Regions from separate parts of the Homo sapiens genome. Here region 1 is linked to region 2. A link means that fine-mapping ties the variant in region 2 to the expression of a gene that starts in the linked region. Tissue or cell type: blood mononuclear cells. Region 2 holds a variant in brackets; the other region holds the start of a gene. All regions are shown on one strand. Distances are between the middles of the regions.

Region 1 (8,000 bases), 64 kb after region 2:
GTGCCTCGAGGGCGCAGTGTGAGGTGCAAGGCAGAGCTCTGGCCCATTTAGGGGATAAAGGAGGGCTGCCCAGACGCAGGGATGCAGGCACTGAGACCTGAAGGGTGAGGAGGGGTCCCTGTCCCCCTTCGCAGCCCTGGCCCAGCTTGCCCCTGCTGGACTCCCATCATACACACCCTCTGCCACACACACCCTCTAGGAATGCCCCTCATGCCTCCATGTGGCAAATACCTGCTAACCTCCCCACCAGCTCCAACACCCTCCCTGGCCCCTTTGTTCCCCCGACACTTCGGGAGCCTCTCCCAGAGCCTCCCTCACACCCCGGCGAGGTCATCTGCTTACATGTCCACCTCCCTGGCTGGACTGGTACCTCCCCAAGGGAAGAGGACAGGACAGGGCTGACTGAACCCTGGCCGGGCTCACACAGGGCCCGGTGGCTGAGTGGCGAGAGGTGCAGGTACTCCGGGCATTCTGCTCTCAATCCTGGCTTAGCCCGTCCCTGGTTGTGTGACCTGGGACGAGGGACTTCCCAGCCTCTGGGCCTCCCTGTGAAGAGACGCATTCCAACAGGGCCACCTCCCAGGGTTACTCTGAGTCATAAGACAACAAGGGGAATGCTTTGCACAGAGCTCCCTCAGGGGCAGCCTTTAGGATCAACATGTCTGCGTTGGACAAATGAATGAAGGCAGGGTACGTGCAGCCTTCCTGTCATGCTAAGCTGGAAAACAAGGCCTCGAGACATGGGGGCAGGGGGTGGGGGAGGCCTCATTCCAGACAAATGCCAGCCACGGCTGGGCCCTCACAGGTGCCTCAGCAGACACGCACTGGACACCTGTGTGCCAGTCCCACTGCAGGTAGCCTGCCAGAGACCCAACAAAGAGATGAGAAAGAGAAGCAGTACACTAATAGCAGAGAACTGGGGGCCCCCCAAAGTCAGGAATGACCTCGATCACAGGAGGAAGAGTGTTCCGAGCAGAAAGAGCAGCAGGTGTAAAGGCCCTGGGGTAGCAGGAACCTGGAGTGTGAGGAAGTGAAAACAAGGCCAGGGTGGCTGAAGCTCACAGACAGAGTGGAGAAGAGAGTGGAGATAAGGTCATAGAGGTGGCCAGGGGCCTCAGGGTGAGGAGGGGAGCCGCCAGGGTTCCTGGAGCATTTTATAGGCTAGAAAGTGGTATCATTTGATGCACATCTTTAAAAGCTCCTTCTGGCCGGGCGCAGTGGCTCACACCTGTACTCCCAGCACTTTGGGAGTCCGAAGCGGGTGGATCACAAGGTCAGGAGTTCAAGACCAGCCTGGCCAATATGGTGAAAACCTGTCTCTACTAGAAATACAAAAATTAGCCGGGCATGGTGGTGGGTCCCACCTACTTGGGAGGCTGAGGCAGGAGAATGGCTTGAACCCAGGAGGCGGAGGTTCCAGTGAGCCGAGATCATGCCACTGCACTCCAGCCTGGGCGACAGAGCAAGACTCCATCTCAAAAGAAAAAAAAAAAACAACCTCCTTCTCAGGCCCCATGCAGTGCCTCACACCTGTAATACCAGCACTTTGGGAGGCTGAGGCAGGATCACTTGAGCCCAGGAGTTTGAGACCAGCCTGGGCAACATAGGGAATCCCCATCTCTCCAAAAAGTACAAAAATGAGCCTGGTGTGGGGATCTCTTGAGCCTCCAGTCTGGGCGCCAGAGTGAGACCCTGACTCCAAAAAAAAAGTTCCTTCTGGTTCAGGTGAATTATGAACTGCCAAAGGGGTGAGAGCAAGGCTAGGAGACCAGGGAAGAAGCTGGGACAGGTATGCAGGTGGGAAGTGGCAGTACCTGCAACAGGGCATGAAGCCATGGATGAATTCAGGTGTGTTCAGAAGGCAGAGACAATCTAATCCACTTATGATTGGCTGTAGGGATGAGACTGTACCAAGGTATCAAGGACAACTCCCAGGCTTGGGGACCCGCACACTAGGAACCCACCTTCCCATTTCCTTCCTGAAAGGGAGTCTTCCTTTCATCCCCACCACATCCCAAGGACTGTGGATTGTGGGCTGGGACTCTGGGTCAGGGGACAAAGGAGACTTGAGGTATCTTGACCAAGCTTCCCATCACCCTTCCCAGCCCTCAGGATGCCAACTAATGGGGGTTGTGGAGAGGCTTTAGTTCCACTCTGAGGGTGGGTCACCATCCCACTTTTCAGGTGGGGAGACTGAACCCCGAAGAACCACCAGACCCAAATTCCAGGATGACTGAGGAACCCTGAAGGAATTTCAACCTTCCAACAGCCAGGTGGGGACGATCCACACTTCATAATGAGGGGACAGCTAGAAGAGAACGTCACTGGCCTCGAGTCACCCAGCTCATCTGTTGAGCATTCACTATCCTGAGTCCTTTACGACGTCAGTTACCTAAATTGTCACCACCCTAAGAGGTTCAGACTACTGCTACCCTCATTTCACAGGGACAATCCATGCGGATCGGAGATAAAAGTTTTTCATTCTTAGAGGCGGGTAAGGGCCCAGAATGGTGGAGGTGGGGTCAGGGCCCGGGGAACCGGGACAATCGGCGATGTCGCACTTCCTTTGGCGACAAAGCCCTGCATATCGCGGTGCCAAGCCCCCTCCCCCGCCCCGGGGCCCAGGCCGGCCTCCCAAATTCTCCTGAACTGAAGAGATCCAGGTCCGGCGTGCTGAGAACGAGGCCAGACCAGGGGGTCTTACGGGACCCCATCCCCACCCCAGACGATTTCCGGGGGGAGCCGCAACCCGGAAATGAATGAGTTGTCAGGGCTTGGTATCCTGGATGGGGTCAGGGGTCGGAGAAGGAGTGGCAGTGGGATCAGCAGGAAGCTCTCGGTAGGGTCCGGGGGTCGAAGGTCACAGGTGAGTGGGAGGGGCGGGCCGGACCTGAGGGGACCGGGCAGAACGGAGAGGGGCCTAGGGGGATACTAGAGGTGGGTGGGACCACAGCGCCATTTTGTCTAGCAGAGGGGGAGTGGGGGCCTGGAGGCCATCCTCACCATCTTCTGTTTCCTCCGTCGCCGCCTCGGCCGCCGCCTCAGCCTCCACCGCCGCCACCAGAGCCGCCTTCTTAGCCGCCGCCTCACAGTAACTTCCAGCCACGGCACAGCCCACACTGATGGCGCCACCACCTCCCTGTCATTGGTGTGCAGTCTAGCCCCGCCCCCACATAGGAGCGCTTTGCACGCTTCCATTGGCCGCATCCAGCTAACTCATGCGCCCATTGGTTGCCACGCCTCCTCCCATTGTGGTCAAGTTCGGTTGAAGAAGCAAAGCACCTCCCGGTACTTGGAAGCAATGAAAGTGAGATCCGGAAGTGGGCGGAGGCCTCGGCCGCGAAGTCTCTTGGGAGCTGTAGTTTACAGCTCCGCGAGGCTCTCTAGAGCTTTTGTGTGTCTGTGTGTTTTTAAGATGCGAGGTTCGGCCGGGTGCGGTGGCTCACTCCTGTAATCTTAGCACTTTGGGAGGCCGAGGCGGGTAGATCGCCTGAGGTCAGCAGTTCGAGACCAGCCTGGCCAGCATGGTGAAACCCCATCTCTGCGCCTGTAATTCCAGCTAGTAGGGAGGCTGAGGCAGGAGAATCACTTGAACCCGGGAGGCGGAGGTTGCAGTGAGCCAAGATCGTGCCATTGCACTCCAGCCTGGGCAACAAGAGCGAAAATCAGTCTCAAAAAAAAAAAAAAAAAGCCAGCCGGGCGCAGTGGCTCACGCCTGTAATCCCAGCACTTTGGGAGGCCGACGCGGGTGGATCACGAGGTCAGGAGATCGAGACCGTCCTGGCTAACACGGTGAAACCACGTCTCTACTAAAAATACAAAAAATTAGCCGGGCGTGGTGGCGGACGCCTGTAGTCCCAGCTACTCCGGAGGCCGAAGCAGGACAACGGCGTGAACCGTGAGTGAGGCGGATCTTGCAGTGAGCTGAGATCGCGCCACTGCACTCCAGCCTGGCGGACAGAGGGAGACTCTGTCTCAAAAAAAAAAAGGCGGGGCACGGTGGCTCACGCCTGTAATCCCAGCAATCCCAGCACTTTGGGAAGCCGAGGCGGGCGGATCACGAGGTCAGGAGTTTGAGACCAGCCTGGCCAACATGGTGAAACCCCATCTCTACTAAAATACAAAAATTAGCCGGGCGTGGTGGCGGGCGCCTGTCATCCCAGCTACTCAAGAGGCTGAGGCAGGAGAATCGCTTAAAACCAGAAGGCGGAGGTGTCAGTCAGCCGAGATTAAGCCACTACAGTCCAGTCTGGGCAACAAGAGCTAAACTCCCTCTCAAAAGAAAAAAAAAAAAAAGACACAGGGGTCTTGCTATGTTTCCCAAGCTGGTCTCGAACTTCTGGCCTCAAGCAATCCTCCAGACTTGGCTTCCCAAAGTTCTGGGAGCCATCGTGCCGGCATCTTCTTGTGTTTATTACGTTTTTAAAGCAGCCCTAGAAGATAAGAACCATAACACTCCCTAGCTCCTCCTCGACACCGTCTTGCTCAACCACCTCCCGTAACTCCCTAGTATTCAATCCCACCTCCTTGGCCCCATTTATGGGCACCTGCGGTCTTCATTGCCCACCTGTGTCCTCACCTCTAACCAATTCCTTCTATGTCTGGGCTCTCCCAGACCTTGCCATTTCCTCCAAGACTTCCCTGACTGCATTCTTCAAAAAGGCAAGTCAGGTACCTTCCCTGAAGTCCTACAGCCCTCACAATCCCCCTCCCAGCCCTGACACCTCTGTGTCCAAACTGCCTTCCTGACTTCCAGGGCAAAGAATGGGCACCCAGCACACAGCAATTGCACAGTGAAGTTGCTAAGTGGAAGCTACTAAGTATTATTACTCCAACAGCAACAGAGCAGAGGAGAAACCAGCACTGCATTTTATAGGCGACAAATGCACCTCACAGTGTTAAATTCTTGCTCAAAATCAAACATCCCCAAGGGACAAGTGGAAGATTCAAACTCCTTATGGGCTGGAGTTCAAGACCAGCCTGGTCAACATGGTGAAACTCCCCTCTACTAAAAATACATAAATTAGCTGGGCGTGGTGGCATGCACCTGTAATCCCAGCTACTTGGGAGGCTGAGGCACCAGAATTGCTTGAACCCAGGAGGCAGAGGTTGCAGTAAGCAGGGATCCGACAACTGCACTCCAGCCTGGGTGACAGAGCGAGACCCTGTTTCAAAAACAAACACCCCCCCGCACACACACACAGTTTTCCACCAGTCTTCCCAGACCTATAAAATTTATGACACAGGCTGGGCATGACGGCTCACACCTGTAATCCCAGCACTTTGGGAGGCCGAGGCAGGCAGATCACCTGAGGTCAGGAGTTCGAGACCAGCCTGGCCAACATGGTTGAAACCCCGTCTCTACTAAAAATACAAAAATTAGCCGGGTGTGGTGGTGGGCGCCTATAATCCCAGCTATTCGGGAGGCTGAGGCAGGAGATTGCTTGAACCCAGGAGAGGGAGTTTGCAGTGAGCCGAGATCGTGCCACTGCACTCCAGCCTGGGGGACAGAGCGCAGTGGTTCATGCCTGTAATCCCAGCACTTTGGGAGGCAGAGGAGGGCGGATCACCTGAGGTCGGGAGCTCGAGACCAGCCTGACCAACATGGAGAAACCCCATCTCTACTAAAAATACAAAATTAGCCGGGCGTGGTGGCGCATGCCTGTAATCCCAGCTACTCGGGAGGGTGAGGCAGGAGAATCGCTTGAACCCGCAAGGCGGAGGTTTTAATGAGCCGAGATCCCCCCATTGCACTCCAACCTGGGCAACAAAAGGGAAACTGTCTCAAAAAAAAAAAAGAGTTATGACACATATAAGGCAAGTGGAACTTTGAACATTTATTACACGTTTAATAATATTTCAAAATTATTGATAATTCTTTTGGATGTGATAAGCTTTGTAATTGTCTTTTAATGAGCTCTCATCTTGGAGAGATACATTCTGAAATATTTACAGAAGAAATAATCCGATGCCTGAGATCAGCTTCAAAAGAACTCAGGATGGGGCAGGGACGGGTTGTAGGTAGTCGGTAGTCAGGGTACTGGGTACACGGATGTTCTTTGTACTGTTCTTTGGTCTGTTGCGCAGGTTCGAAATGCTTCCTAATTAAAAAGCCTAAAAAGGGACTTGGCAAGCTCCCATCCAGACTTCAACCCCACAATATGGAGAGCACTCAGGTCCGAGGCGTTCCTGCTCCCCAGCTCCCTGCAAAAATAGCGCCAGGCAAGGTCCGAGGCGAGGGCGATGCTTCCATGAGGGTCCCGCCGACTGCGTCGCGATCCTCAATGGCTCAGCGACTTGCGGCCCTTGAGCATTCGGCGAAGGATGACCTGCACGCCGGCCGGCGTGCTCAGGCGCCGGACCCAGCCGTGCTTGTTCTTGCGTTTGATGTTGCTCGGCTGATACTCATTCCCGCGAGCCTTGCCCCGGGCCTGCTGCGGGGTGGGGAGGCCCCAGGCGTCTGGGAACCCCAGCCAGGCCCGGGGCTGGAGCCACCTGCGTGGGTAGAGGGACGGCGAGAAAGGTCAGACGGGGCGCTGGGTGACCTTGGCGCTCAACCTCTCTGAGCCTCGGCTCCCGGAGACAGAGCCTGGCTGCAAAATGCGCAAGGCACTGGCAGGTCACGCGGGCAGTGAAGAGTGGCGCCAGCCTCCGAAGCCGCCCTTATTCCCTGATTTGGGGAAGGGTCCCCCTGAGGACTTACCTGCCACCCAGCAACGCTGCCGACCTACTCGTGGGGCCCAACAGGGATCCAGCCAAGACAGCCATATCCGCAGTGGGTCCCGCAGTACCGGCTGCGGGCGATTCCGGAGCCCAGAGCCGCTCCAGCCCTGGAACAAAGGATTATGGGAAATGTAGTTTCTCCTAACGTGCAAAAAAGAGGCCGTTGGGGAAAACCCTGAAGTTGTAGTTCTGCGCCTGCGCAACAGAGGCGCGCCAGTCTATATCCGCGGGGCACAGGGATGCTCTGCATACACACCAACAGGTAGCCGGCGAACGGCGCCTTCTGAGCAAGCGCGTGCGCACAAGGCATTATCTCCCGCGGTCAGCTGGCAGCTGAGCTGTAGTTCTCTCTCCTATTGACCGGCAGAGGGTGCCCCGCGGTGGCCGGGCGCAGCTGGTGGCAGCTGCAGGAAGCGGCTGGTTGGTCTTCCCGCCCCCAGCGGGAGCTGGGCAGATGGCACACAGCTGGCTGGCAGCTTGTCCTGGCTGCAGCCAAGTCTCCGCCTCTTGGCAGGAAGCCGAGGAGGCCTGAGTTCAAGCTCGCTGCGTGTCCTTGGGGTGGTCCCTGCGCCACTCTGGGCTTTCTCAATCTGTAAACTCAGGGATTGCAAGCTTGTCTTTGGCAATCTTGCCCCCATTTTGGGCCCTAGAAGAATTCTCCTCTGTTGTTAGAACCAAAAAAAAAAAAAAAAAAAAGGAAGAAAAATTTTCTGATACTCAGATCTGAACCCCTCCCCTACTCACACACTATCCTTGGCTCCCCATTTCCCCAGGTAAAACCTGCTCAGCCCTTCCATCAGGCATGCAAAACCCTCTACACACACCATCTTACATTTCAGCCACACTCTCCTCTCTGCCTGGTGTTCCCCTATCCGCCCTTTAAAAATCCTTTCCTCTCCAAGGGCTGAGTGAGGTGTGGCTCATGCCTGTAATTCCAGCATTTTGGGAGGCTGAGGAGGGAGGATCCCTTGGGGCCAGGAGTTTGAGACCAGCCTGGGGACATGGTAGCAACCACCTATAGTCTCAAGTACTTGAAGGTGAGGTGGGAGGATTCCCTGAACCCAGGAGATCCAGGCTGTAGTGAGCAATGATAGCGCCAATGCACTGCAGCCTGGGCAACGGAGTGAGATCCTTTCTCAAAAAAAAAAGGAGTCGTCTTCTCTCAACCGCTGTCCATTCTTCTGGCCCGACTGCTTTCCCTTGACTCTCCCCCAAGTTCAAGGGCTCCTCAAGGGCCAGGGGCCTGGGGCTGTATCCCTACAAGTGCCAGCTTGGGG
Region 2 (8,248 bases):
GCTCACTGCAACCTCAATCTCCTGGACTCAAGTGATCCTCTTGCCTCAGCCTCCTGAGTAGCTGGGACTACAGGCGTGCACCACCACACCCAGCTAATATGTTTATATTTAGCAGAGATGAGGTCTCACTATGTTGCCCAGGCTAGTCTCGAACTCCTGGGCTCAAGCAATCCTCTCACCCCAGCCTCCCAAACTGCTGGGATTACAGGTGTGGGGCACTGCGTCCAGCTAAATTTTTTTTATTTCTTTTCTTTTTTTTGGAGGCAGGGTCTCACTCTGTCACCCAGGCTGGAGCACAGTGATGTGAGCATAGCTCACTGAAGCCTTGACATCCTGGGCTCCAGCAATCCTCCTGCCTCAGCCTTTTGAGTAGCTGGCACTATGGACATGCCACTATGCCCAGGTCATTTTTTATTTTTAGTAGACGTGGGGTCTCGCTATGTTGATCAGGCTGGTCTTGAACTCCTGGGCTCAAACAATCCTCCCTCCTGGACCTCCCAAAGTGCTGAGATTACAGGTGGGCACCACCACACCTGGCAATTTTTTTTTTTTTTTTTGAGACGGAGTCTCGCTCTGTCACCCAGGCTGAAGTGCAGTGGCACAATCTCGCCTCACTGCAACCTCCACCTCCCAGGTTCAAGTGATTCTCCTGCCTCAGCCTCCTGAGTAGCTGGGATTACAGGCGTGTGCAACCATGCCAGCTAATTTTTGTATTTTTAGTAGAGACGGGGTTTCACCATGTTTGCCAGGCTGGTCTCAAACTCCTGACCTCAAGTGAGCCACCCACCTCGGCCTCCCATAGTGCTGGGATTACAGGCATGAGCCACCGTGCCCTGACCTGGTGCCCTGGCTAACTTTTTTTTAGAGACAGAATCTCACTATGCTGCTGAGGCTGGTCTTGAACTCCTAGGCTCACCCTCCTAAAGTGCTGAGATTACAGGCATGAGCCACCATTCCCAGCCAGCAACATTTTTTTTAAACTGTAAGTATATTCCATGCAATATTTGAGATATAATTTTGAAAATAATATTCATTGTCTTTTTGGAATCCAAGTTTAATTCTCCTCCTGTGTGTTAATTGGCAGTCCTGAGCCCATAACTTACTATGCATGAAGCTCCCAGAATGTGCCAGCACTAATCAAAGGGGTCCAGCACACACAAGCTGCAAATAAGTGGCTGAAGACCGGCTACAGTAGCTCACACCTGTAATCCCAGCACTTTGGGAGACCGAGGCAGGAGGACCACCTGAGTCCAGGAATTTGAGACCAACCTGGGCAACATGGTGAAACCCTGTCTGTACAAAAAGTACAAAAATTAGGCCAGGCATACTGGCTAACACCTGTAATCCCAGCACTGTGAGAGGCCAAGGTGGGTGGATCACTTGAGGTCAGAAATTTGAGACCAGCCTGGCCAACCTAGTGAAACCCCGTCTGTACTAAAAATACAAAAATTATTAGCCGGGTATGGTGGTATGTGCCTGTAGTCCCAGCTACTCGGGAGGCTGAGGCAGGAGAATCACTTGAACCTGGGAGGCAGAGATTGCAGTGAGCCGAGATCTCACTACTGCACTCCAGCCTGGGCAACAGAGGGAGACTCTGTCTAAAAATAAATACATACATACATACATACATACATACATACAAAAATTAGTCAGGCATGGTGGCACATGCCAGTAGTCCCAGCTACTTGGGAGGCTGAGGTGGGAGGATCACTTGAGCCCAGGAGGTCAAGGCTGCAGTGAGCCAAGATAGTGCCACTGTACTCCAGCCTGGGCGACTGAGTGAGACCCTGAATGGAAAAAAAAAAACAAAAAAAGGATGGACTGAATAAAAGTTCACAGTGTTTTGTTCCTGTTCAATTCTAGCATGTATAAACAGTCCATATTTGCTGTATGCTGGGTGTTGAATTTAGAAATATTAACTCATTGCCAAATCCCGGGAAGTAGGGAGAAGCTTTTGTTGTTTTGTTTTGTTTGAGATGGAGTCTCACTCTTTCACCCAGGCTGGAGTGCAGTGGCGCAGTCTCGGCTCACTGCAAGCCCCACCTTCTGCGTTCATACCATTCTCCTGCCTCAACCTCCTGAGTAGCTGGGACTACAGGCGCCCGCCGTCATGCCTGGCTAATTTTTCTATTTTTAGTAGAGACCGGGTTTCACTGTGTTAGCCAGGATGGTCTGGATCTCCTGACCCTGTGATCCACCCGCCTCGGCCTCCCAAAGTGCTGGGATTACAGGCGTGAGCCACCGTTCCCGGCTGTTTTGTTTTATTTTGTTTTGTTTGAGACAGGGTCTCCCTCTGTTGCCAAGGCTGGAGTGCAGTGGAAGGTCTCGGCTCACTGCAACCACTGCCTCCCAGGCTCAAGCGATTCTGTTGCCTCAGCCTCCCGAGTAGCTGGGATTGCAGGTGCGCCCCACCATGCCCGGCTAAGTTTTGTATTTTTAGTAGAGATGGGGTTTCACCATGTTGGCCAGGCTGGTCTCAAACTCCTGCCTTCAAGTGATCCACCTGCCTTGGCCTCCCAAAGTGTTGAGATTACAGGAGTGAGCCATTGCGCCTGGGCAGCAGAAGTTTTAAACCCTTTGCAGGCAGGAAAGTGAAGGCATGAGAGGGGAGGTGACTTTCTTGAGGTGGCAGAAACAGGCGGGCTCTCTGGGCAAAGTCACAGCTGCAAATCTGGGGTCTCCTGGAGACCATCGCGCCACTCTCGCACCCCGGCTTGTGTCAAACTCACTAGACAATTATCCCCGTGTTCTCAGACACAACTTCATCCAGGGGGTGTCCCGCCTGCCCTGAGACATTGTGGGGAGCAGGTGTGGGGCTCTCTCCTTAAGGGTGAGGTGGGTGAGAGATGGGAGGGTGGGGTGAGGGAAGGCTGAAGAGGCAGCTTCAGGGTCTTCCAAGGAGGTGACCTGGCTGGCCAGGGCCCAGGCAGTGGCAAAGACAGACCTCCCATAGGACCTCAGACCACCCAGCCGTCCGCACTGGGCAGGAAGGTAAGCTCAGCCCCCTCAGTCCTGCTCAAGGCAGAACTCAGTCTCCTCACCTCAGACCCCTAATGGCGGGGCCCTACCTCCACCTCAACCCCTCGCCCAGAGCCCCAGGGGTAGGGCCCTGTCTCTATCCGCCAAAACCCCGGGGCAAAGCACCGTCTCCCCAGATGCCCAGAGTATGGTAGGTCTCACCTCAGCCCCCCAAGATGGGGTGGAACACCCCTCAGTCCCCAGGGCATAACTGTGCCCCTCCCTCAGACCCTCCCAATAGGGTCCTGCCTGCCCCTTAGATCCTCAGATTAGAGCCCTGCCTCCCCTCTCAGACCTGAACCTGGCTAACTGGTGTCTTTTCTTTCTTTTTTTTTTTTTTTTTTTTTTTTTTTTGAGACAGAGTCTAGCTCTGTCGCCAAGGCTGGGGTGCAATGGCGCGGTATCCACTCACTGCAACCTCTGCCTCCTGGGTTCAAGCAATTCCCCTGCCTTAGCCTCCCGAGTAGCTGGGTCTACAGGTGCCCGCCAACATGCCCTGCTAATTTTTTTTTTGTATTTTTAGTAGAGACGGGGTTTCACTATGTTAACCAGGATGGCCTCAATTTCCTGACCTCGTGATCCGCCCGCCTTGGCCTCCCAGTGCTGGGATTACAGGTGTGAGCCACTGCACCTGGCCTGTCTTTTCATTTAAAAAAAAATTATTGGCCGGGTGCAGTGGCTCACACCTATAATCCCAACACTTCGGGAGGCCGAGGTGGGTGGATCACTAGGTCAGGAGATCGAGACCATGCTGGCTAACACAGTGAAACCCCGTCTCTACTAAAAATACGAAAAATTAGCCAGGTGTGGTGGTGGGCGCCTGTAGTCCCAGCTACTCGGGAGGCTGAGGCAGGAGAATGGCATGAACCCGGGAGGCGGAGCTTGCAGTGAGCCGAGATTGCGCCACTGCACTCCAGCCTGGGCGACAGAGCGAGACTCCGTCTCAAAAAATAAATAAATAAATAAATAAAAACATTATTTAATTATTTTATTATTATTATTACTATTTTTGACACAGAGTTTCACTCTGTCGCCCAGGCTGGATTGCAGTGGCGCAATCTCAGCTCCCTACAACCTCTGCCTCCCGGGTTCAAGTGATTCTCCTACCTCAGCCTCCCGAGTAGCTGGGATTACAGGCACCCGCCACCAAACCCAGCTAATTTTTTGTATTTTTAGTAGAGATGGGGTTTCCCCATGTTGGCCAGGCTGGTCTGGAACTCCTGATCTCAGGTGATCCACCTGCCTCAGCCTCCCAAGACACCTCTTCTCTATAAAAAATAAACTAAAAATTAAAAAAGAAACTTAAAAATCACATCCTTTTTTTTTTTTTTTTTTTTTAGAGACATGGTGTCACTACATTGCCGAGGCTGGTCTCGAACTCCCAGCCTCAAGCAGTGTTCCCACCTCAGCCTCCTAATGACTAAGGCTTTTGAGAACAGAAGGCATTCCCCATGTCCCCCCAGGACATTCACCCAGGGCCAACTGCAAAAGGATGAAGGACAGAGAGTTGCAGAAAGACAAACTCTCCTGATTCTTCATGTCTTATTATATTTCTGCAGAGGGTTCTCTTCCAAAGTTTGAAAGGCATGGCTTTAGTTTGTTAAATTGTGAACACTTTCTTTAAAAACAGCTTTGCTGGCCAGGCGTGGTGGTTCACACCTGTAATCCCAACATTTTGGGAGGCCAAGGTGGGTGGATTGCTTGAGCTCAGCAGTTTAAGACCAGCCTGGGCAACATGGTGAGACCCCATCTCTATAAAAAATTAGCCAGGAGTGGTGGCACGTGCCTGTAATCCCAGCTACTTGAGAGACTGAGGTGGGAGGATTGCCCGAGCCTGGGGAGGCTGAGGCTGCAGTGAGCTGTGATCACACCACC[A/G]CACTCCAGCCTGGGTGGCAGAGTGAGACCATGTCTCAAAAAAAATAAAATTAAATTAAAATAAAAATAGCTGGCCGGGCGTGGCAGCTCACGTCTGTAATTCCAGCACTTTGGGAAGTCAAGGCAGGAGACTGAGGCCAGTGGATCACTTGAGGTCAGGAGTTCGAAACCACCTGGCTAACATGGTGCAACCCCGTCTCTACTAAAATACAAAAATTAGCTGGTCATGGTGGTGCACCCCTGTATTCCCAGCTACTTGGGAGGCTGAGGCATGAGAATCACTTGAACCCAGGAAGTAGAGGTTGCAGTGAGCTGAGATCACACCGCTGCACTCTAGCCTGGGCCACAGAGCGAGACTCCATCTCAATAATAATAATAATAATAAATAATTTTTAAAAACAGCTTTATTGATATATAATTCATGTATTTTACAATCCACCTATTTAAAGTGTACAATTTGATGTTTTTGTTTGTTTGTTTGTTTGTTTTGAGATGGAGTCTCGCTCTGTCGCCCAGGCTGGAGTGCAGTGGCGCGATCTCAGCTCATTGCAAGCTCTGCCTCCCAGGTTCACGCCATTCTCCTGCCTCAGCCTCCCGAGTAGCTGGGACTACAGGCGCCCGCCACCACGCCTGGCTAATTTTTTGTATTTTTAGTAGAGATGGGGTTTCACCGTGTTAGCCAGGATGGTCTAGATCTCCTGACCTCGTGATCCGCCCGCCTCGGCCTCCCAAAGTGCTGAGATTACAGGCGTGAGCCACCGCGCCCAGCCAATTTGATGATTTTTTTGTAAATTCACAGAGTTGTACATTGATCACCACGATCCATTTTAGAACATTATTTTAGAACATTTTCACCTTCCCAAAAGAAAACCCACGTCCCCATCAGCAGTCACTTCCCATTCCCCTCCCCCAATCCCTGACAGCCACCAACCTGCTTCCTGTCTCTATGGATTTGCCTGTTCTGGGCATTTCATGTCAGTGGAATCTCACATTCTGTGGCCTTTTGTGTCCGGCTTCTCTCACTTAGGCATCATGTTTTTGGGGTTCACACACACTGCAACATGGATCAGTGCTTCCTTCCTTTTTATGGCTGAATCATGTTCTATGTATGGAAGGAACACATTTTGTGCGTTAATTCATCTGCTGACAGGCATTTGGGTTCTTTCCACCTTTGGCTACTGTGAATCGAGCGGCTGTGGACATTCCTGGCAAGTTGATGTGAGGATGTGTTTCCATTGCTCTGGGTATATGCTGAGAAGTAGAGTTTCTGGGTCACGTGGTAACTATGTTTAACATTTTGAGGAACTGCCAGACTTTCCCAAAGCCGTTGCAACATTGTACATTCTCACTAGTACTGTCTGAGAATTCTGATTTCCCCACATCCTCATCAACACCTGTTACTGTTCATTTTGGGGGTTTATGGGTTTTTAAAATAGCCACCCTCGTGGGTGTGTAGTGGTATCTCACTGTGGTCCTGATTTGCATTTCCGTAATGGCTAATGATTTTGAATATCTTTCTTTTTTTTTTTTTTTTTTTTTTTTTAGACAGACTCTCGCTCTGTCACCCAGGCTGGAGTGCAATGGTGTGATCGTGGCTCACTGCAACCTCCATCTCCCGGGTTCAAGCAATTCTTCTGCCTCAGCCTCCCAAGTAGCTGGGATTACAGGCACCTGCCACCAGGCCTGGCTAATTTTTTTGTATTTTTAGTAGAGATGGGGTTTCACCATGTTGGCCAGGCTGGTCTCGAATGCCCAACCTCAGGTGATCCACCTGTCTTGGCCTCCCAAAGTGCTGGGATTATAGGTGTGAGCCACCGCGCCCAGCCGATTTTGAATGTCTTTTGATATGCTCTTTGGCCATTTGCATATCTTATTTAATTTAATTTTAATTTTTCTTTTTTTTTTTTTTGGACATAGAGTCTCACTCTGTTCCCCAGGTTGGAGTGTGGTGGCACAATCTCATCTCACTGCAACCTCCGCCTCCCGGATTCAAGCGAGTCTCCTGGCTCAGACTCCCAAATAGCTGGGACTACAAGCATGCGCTTCCATGCCTGGCTAATTTTTGTATTTTTAGCAAAGATGGGGTTTCGCCATGTTGGCCAGGCTGGTGGTGGGCAGATCACTTGAGGTTAGGAGTTCGAGACCAGCCTGGCCAACATGGCGAAACCCTGTCTCTACTAAAAATACAAAAATTAGCCAGGTATGGTGGTGCACACCTGTAATCCCAGCTACTCGAGAGGCTGAGGCTGGGGAATCACTTGAACCCGGGAGACGGAGGTTACAGTGAGCCGAGATCGTGCCACTGCACTCCAGGCTGGGTGACAGAGCAAAAAACCCTGTCTCAAAAACAACAACAAAAAAAAAAACAAAAAAAGGTTTTTTTTAAAGACTGTTGTTTGCCTCATGAGATGGTGTTAGCATTTGTATTAATTTGCTAGGGCTTCCATGACAAGGTATTACAGACTGGGTGGTACCAAGATCAAAGTGTTAGCGGGGTTGGTTCCTTCTGAGGCTGTGAGGGAAGGATCTGTTCCAGGTTTTTGTTTGTTTGTTTGTTTTTTTGAGACGGAGTCTCGCTCTGTCACCCAGGCTGGACTGGAGTGCAGAGACGCGATCTCGGCTCACTGCAACCTCCGCCTCCCCGAGTTCAAGCAATTCTCTGCCTCAGCCTCCCCAGTAGCTGAGATTACGGGTGCCCACCAACATGCCCTGCTAATTTTTTTGTATTTTTAGTAGAGATGGGATTTCACCATCTTGGCCAGGTTGCTCTTGAACTCTTGACCTCGTGATCCACCCGCCTTGGCCTCCCAGAGTGCTGGGATTACAGGCGTGAGCCACCATAGCCGGCCTGTTCCAGGTCTTTCTACTTGGCTTGCAGGTGGCATCTTCTTCCTGTGTCTGCTCTTGGTCTTCCTTCTGTCCGTGTCTCTGTGTCCAAATCTCTTCTCTTTATAAGGACATCAGTCATGTTGGATTAGGACCCACCCTAAGGACCTCACCTTAACTTAATTACCTCTCTAAAGACCCTACTTCTGCCAGGAGAGGTGGCTCACGACTATAATCCCAGCACTTTGGGAGGCCGAGGGGGGCGAATCACCTGAGGTCAGGAGTTTGAAACCAGCCTGGCCAACATGGTGAAACCCTGTCTCTACTAAAAATACAAAAATTAGTTCGGCCGAGTGCGGTGGCTCACACCTGTAATCCTAGCACTTTAGGAGGCCGAGGTGGGCGGATCACCTGAGGATGGGAGTTTGAGACCAGCCTGGCCAACATGGAGAAACCCTGTCTCTACTAAAAAATACAATATTAGCCAAGCATGGTGGTGCGTGCCTGTAATCCCAGCTACTAGGGAGAC

The links. PIP is the estimated chance that this variant, and not a neighbour inherited with it, causes the effect.
Region 1: DDA1 starts here. The variant in region 2 is fine-mapped to the expression of DDA1 in blood mononuclear cells (TOPMed, PIP above 0.99).

Annotation. Positions count from the first base shown.
Region 1 is chr19:17,304,661-17,312,660 of GRCh38, reverse strand. DDA1 (DET1 and DDB1 associated 1) reads right to left here and starts at 3,098. Exons shown (of 5, transcript NM_024050.6): 1 at 3,004-3,098. The coding sequence starts at 3,006. It overlaps MRPL34 (mitochondrial ribosomal protein L34), which reads right to left and starts at 6,789. Exons shown (of 2, transcript NM_023937.4): 1 at 6,704-6,789; 2 at 5,818-6,495. The coding sequence starts at 6,768. The coding sequence ends at 6,282. RefSeq lists enhancers at 1-444, 2,670-3,233, 3,323-3,512, 3,234-3,795, 6,766-6,845 and silencers at 2,783-2,882, 6,476-6,535.
Region 2 is chr19:17,368,190-17,376,437 of GRCh38, reverse strand. All of the region lies in intron 1 of PLVAP (plasmalemma vesicle associated protein), which reads left to right. Among named protein-coding and RNA genes, the nearest start is that of PLVAP, 5.0 kb to the left of the region's middle. The variant A/G (reference allele first, on the strand shown) is at 4,894.